2 separate regions of the Homo sapiens genome follow, and region 2 is linked to region 1. Evidence: fine-mapped expression QTL. A gene starts in region 1. The other region holds a variant in brackets. All regions are shown on one strand. Distances are from middle to middle.

Region 1 (2,500 bases):
TCACTGCAAGCTCCGCCTCCCGGGTTCACGCCATTCTCCTGCCTCGGCCTCCCAAGTAGCTGGGACTACAGGCGCCCGCCACTACGCCCGGCTAATTTTTTTGTATTTTTAGTAGAGACGGGGTTTCACCATGTTAGCCAGGATGGTCTCGATCTCCTGACTTCGTGATGCATCCGCCTCAGCGTCCCAAAGTGCTGGGACTACAGGCGTGAGCCACCGCGCCCGGCCGGGATTTTTTGGTAAGCAGCAGCGTAAAAATCACTCTCAAGGTTTGAGATTGGGATCCAGCATAACTGGTGACTTGACCTTGGGCAAGTCACTTAATTCCTTTTAGTCTCAGTTTCCCTGATTGTAAATGAAGTCAACACCACCTGGTAAAGGTATTACAGGACTGGTGTGAGGATGAGATGATACATGTGAACATATTATTAAATATGTAAACTATAAGGCAATAGTAAGCAAATGCTAGTTACTATTCTATGTAATACAGGCCTAACCTTTCCTGCCTATGTCCTGATCTGTAAAAAGAAGACAGGTTGAGATCTGAATGTCTATCCACTCACTTATCAGCTGCGTGAACTTTAGCAAGTCATTTCCTTTCTGGGCCTGTTTCCTAAGAAGGTTATTTTTTAAGATCAAATGATATCGTGTTATGCAAATGCTGTCCAGACACATATTAAGAACTTAACACATGATGGCTCTTATTATTCTCTGGGGAGTAGGGTGGTAAAGAGCAAATGAAATTAAACCTAGTTAAGAGAATTTGTATATGCACACAAAACTCTACAGACATCCAAGGTACCGTTATTTGCACTGTAAACTGCCAAAACATGCAGGAAACGAGAAATCAAATGGCGCCTCAGTGATTCGCACTAGAGAGGGGGAGAAGGCAGAGCTTCCGAGAATCAACTGTTTTCCCCCTTATGGCCTCCAGCCTAGATTAGACCATTTATTCAACTTCCCAGCCCCCAATATCCCTGGACATTTATTTACTGTACCTTTTTCACTGAGAGCCTTTCCACTCCCCTCCCCTTCTAGTAGTCGTGAACTTCAGACCCTCGCTTCGACTCCCACTGCCATAACTGTTTTTAACCAAGCTTCCCTGAATCCTCCCCTCCGCCTAAGGAGGAAGTGCAGCTAGACGCACCGCACGGCATCCTAGGAAATGTGGTCTCTCAGACTCTTTGCCTTGGGCTGCAGAGTGGGGAAGACGACGAAGGAGAGCCCAGTAAAACTACAACTACCGGCAGGCAACGCGAGTCACCATCTTTCTTTCGCCCCTTTTCCTGTTGCCGTCCTCTTCCTCCTCTCCTCTAGCGCTGAACCGCTTGGCCTCACGGTACTTGTAGTTCCTTCTGGACTCAAGATCCTAGGGCTTGATGGCCAGCACAGAGGCTGGAAGACTCTAATTCCCAGAGGGCAGAGCGGAAGCTGCGCCTGCGCACACTCAATGAGGGCGTGTATGTCTGTGTCTGAGGGAGAGAGAGCGAGAGTGAGTGAGTGTGAGTGCGGGGTGGGGTGGTGGCCGTTACGTTCGGGGCAACGGCTACGGCAGTGGAGAAGTAAGAAGAGAAACAACGTCCGGCGCTTCCGCCTTCGCTTAGGAGGAGGAAGAGCTGGTAGGGAAAGGAAAGTGCTTCGCCCTGGGCCTGGACTGGACCGAGTCGGGTTGGTGGGGGTCTGGGCTATGAGCTTTTGAGGGTCGCCTGGGACGCGGAGCGAGACACGAGAGCCAGGAGCTATGTCTCAGCCGCCGCCGCCGCCGCCTCCGTTGCCGCCGCCACCTCCTCCCCCTGAGGCTCCACAGACTCCGTCGTCCTTGGCGTCGGCGGCTGCTTCGGGGGGGCTTTTGAAGCGGAGAGACCGGAGAATCCTTTCCGGGAGCTGCCCGGATCCGAAGTGTCAGGCGCGTCTATTTTTCCCGGCCTCCGGTTCTGTCAGCATCGAGTGTACCGAGTGCGGCCAGCGGCACGAGCAGCAACAGCTGCTGGGGGTTGAGGAGGTGACCGACCCGGACGTAGTGCTACACAACCTGCTGCGGAACGCGCTGCTCGGGGTTACGGGGGCACCCAAGAAGAACACGGAACTGGTAAAGGTGATGGGCCTTTCCAACTATCACTGCAAATTGTTGTCGCCCATATTAGCTCGCTATGGAATGGACAAACAGACAGGCCGGGCCAAGCTTCTCCGGGACATGAACCAGGGCGAACTGTTCGATTGCGCCTTACTGGGTGACCGCGCCTTCCTCATAGAACCAGAGCATGTTAACACTGTGGGCTATGGCAAGGACCGCTCCGGAAGCCTCCTGTATTTGCATGACACTCTGGAGGACATTAAGCGGGCCAATAAAAGCCAGGAATGTCTCATTCCAGTGCATGTGGACGGGGATGGACACTGCTTGGTGCATGCTGTGTCTCGGGCTCTAGTAGGCCGAGAGCTCTTCTGGCATGCCTTAAGAGAGAATCTTAAACAGCACTTTCAGCAGCACCTGGCCCGATAT
Region 2 (3,030 bases), 170 kb before region 1:
CCTGTTTTGAATTTCACGTAATTAGAATCACATGGATAAAGCTGTCTGTCTCAATTCTTTCACTCTAAATTATATGAAATATTCATTAACATTGTGGCATATAGCATAGTTCTCATATTTTGTTATGCAGAATATTCCATTATATGACACACTACAATGTATCTACTCTCTTGCTGATAGATTAGATTATTTATGAATAATGATGCTATAAACATTCCTGTATATACCTTTCCTAGTGGATATTCATTTCTGTTGGATATGTAAACTAGGGAGTAGAACCAATGTGTCATAGGTAACGCATATATTCAGCTTCAAGAATTAACACCAATTTTCAACAGCATAAAAAACCAAACACCTGGCTGGGTGTGGTGGCTCACGCCTGTAATCCCAGCACTTTGGGAGGCTGAGGTGGGTGGATCATCTGACGTCGGGAGTTCGAGACCAGCCTGACCAACATGGAAAAACCCTGTCTCTACTAATAATACAAAATTAGCAGGGCGTGGTGGCACACGCCTGTAATCCCAACTACTGGGGAGGCTGAGGCAGTAGAATCGCTTGAACCCAGGAGGCAGAGGTTGCAGTGAGCCGAGATTGCGCCACCGCACTCCAGCCTGGGCAACAAAAGTGAAACTCCATCTCAAAAAAAATTCTAAACAGAATACCACAAAATAGTATTGGGAAAAATTAAAGATGAGCTACATTAACAAAGTAATATACCATGGTCACGGATTTGACAACACAATATTGTAAAGATGATAATTCTTCCCAAATTGATCTACAGAGTCAATGCCATCCCAATCAAATTCAAATAGAATTTCTGCAGAAATTGATATGTTGATTCTGAAATTTATTTATATTGATATGCAAAGGGCTAAGAATAGTCTCTTGAAGAAGAAGGGAGGACTTAATTCTGTTAGATATCAAGCTACAGGTGTCACAACAATGTGGTACTGGTGTCAGGATAAACAGATAGGCCAATGAACAGAAAATGAACAGAAATGCAATGTAGAAACAGAAACACAAAACTTAAAATCTAAAAAGAGGGTGGGCACAGTGGCTCATGCCTGTAATCCCAGCACTTTGGGAGGCCGAGGCAGGCAGATCACTTGAGGTCAGGAGTTCAAGACCAGCCTGGCCAACATGGTAAAACCCCGTCCCCACTAAAAATACAAAAATTAGCCAGACACGGTGGCGTGTGCCTGAAATCCCAGCTACTCGGAAGGCTGAGGCAGGAGAATTGCTTGAAGCTGGGATGCAGAGGTTGCAGTGAGCGGAGATCCCACCATTGCACTCTGCACTCCAGGCTGGGAACAGAGTGAGGCTCTGTCTTCAAAAAAAAAAAAATTCTAAAAACAGATCTGTGAAGGTGTAAATAGTGAATACATGATAAAGGTGGCCCTGCAGATCAGGTGGCCCATCAGATGGCAAAAAAAAAAACAAAACAAACAAAAAAACCAGTTTTCATAAACTGTATAAGATCAGCTGGTTATCCACATGGAAAAAAATGAATTGTGACGCTATGCCTCACATTATATGCAAGAACCAAATCCTGATAAGACTCTAGATCTAAACATGAAGTTTCCAAAAGATAATGACTTTTTTTTTTTTTGAGA[T/C]GGGGTCTTGCTATGTTGCCCAGGCTGGTCTTGGACTCCTGAACTCAAGTGATCTTCCTGCCTCAGGCTCCCAAGTAGCTGGGATTACAGGTATGTGCCACAATGCTTTTGTTTTTAATGACAGATAATGCTTTTGTTCTTAATGACAACTATGTCAAGCATTCCAATAGAATTTTGGGGATTTTGAGAGCAGGATTAATTTCTAACTTTCTATTGCTTATACTAGCACAATACTCAGCATGTAGCAGGTGGATAATATATATTTGCTGAGTGAATAAACATACATGGGTTTAATTGCATAGCCACAGTTTCTAGTCTCAAGGAAACCCAGAAAACAAACTAGAGTTACCAAAAGCTACAAATATAGCAAAATATGATTAAACACATACATATTCCATTTTTACTAAAGACTGAAGTACACTGTAAAAAAAGCACTTAAATATATTCGATGATTCTGATAACTTCATCTATGATACTTTCCTGTTAACCCTGGCCTTAAGTGATTCTCCTTCCTTGGTATGGCTATACTGTCAAGTTACATGATTCATCTGACACCATAAGAAAATAAGCAGGGTCTTTACACATTCGTTTCCTTCTCAAACTGTTATTTACACAGCTGCTCATTTTTGTCTTTCCAGCTTTGGCTTAAACAGCATGTCTTCTGAGAAGCTATGTAAGTGGGAATCTTCCCTCAGCTGCCTATTGTCCTTTGTCATTTCACCCTATTCTTCATTTCCTGCACTGCTGTTATTATTTGTACTTATTTACTTGACTGAATATTTTAAATTGACTATCCCCCCACCGAGATTGTAAGCACCACAAAGGTAGTAACCATGTCAATTTCCATAATTTTTCTAACCAGGGCCCAGAAGGGTATCTGGCACACAGTAGGTGTTCAACAAACACCTTCTGAATAAGTGAACTTTATTATAGAATTTGAGTAGATGCCTTTTCTCCCTAATTATTGTTAGTATTTTGAGGGTGGGGAAAGTATCTTAATTCCATATCCTGAAACCAAAAAGTCCTGTGGCTCACACACATAAAGCATAAATTCCTTAAGTACTTATTTACTGAATGAGAAAATAAAAACACTTTAGGCTGGGGATGGTGACTCACATCTGTAATCCCAGCACTTTGGGAGGCCAAGGTGGGAGGATCACTTGAGGAAAGAAATTTGAGACCAGCCTGGGCAAGAGAGCAAGGCCCTGTCTACAAAAGAGTGAAAAAATTAGCCAGGCATGCTGGTGTGTGCCTATAGTCCCAGCTACTCGGGAGGCTGAGGTGGGAGGATGGCTTGAGCCCAGGAGTTCAAGTGTGCTATGACTGCACCACTACACTCCAGCCTGGACAACAGAGTGAGACCCTGTCTCCAAAAAAAAAACCAAAACCAAAACCAAATAAAAACCTCACAAAACAC

The links. PIP is the estimated chance that this variant, and not a neighbour inherited with it, causes the effect. A credible set is the group of variants that fine-mapping cannot tell apart.
Region 2: its variant is the best candidate, but not a certain one, in a credible set for the expression of VCPIP1 in whole blood (INTERVAL, PIP 0.75).

What each region holds. Positions count from the first base shown.
Region 1 is chr8:66,666,200-66,668,699 of GRCh38, reverse strand. VCPIP1 (valosin containing protein interacting protein 1) reads left to right here and starts at 1,469. Exons shown (of 3, transcript NM_025054.5): 1 at 1,469-2,500. The coding sequence starts at 1,742. It overlaps C8orf44-SGK3 (C8orf44-SGK3 readthrough), which reads right to left and starts at 1,104. Exons shown (of 19, transcript NM_001204173.2): 1 at 999-1,104. C8orf44 (chromosome 8 putative open reading frame 44) reads right to left here and starts at 1,104. Exons shown (of 2, transcript NR_161217.1): 1 at 999-1,104. RefSeq lists enhancers at 872-1,381, 1,752-2,271.
Region 2 is chr8:66,831,318-66,834,347 of GRCh38, reverse strand. All of the region lies in intron 10 of C8orf44-SGK3 (C8orf44-SGK3 readthrough), which reads right to left. The region is part of intron 8 of SGK3 (serum/glucocorticoid regulated kinase family member 3); the gene reads right to left. Among named protein-coding and RNA genes, the nearest start is that of MCMDC2, 38 kb to the left of the region's middle. The variant T/C (reference allele first, on the strand shown) is at 1,614.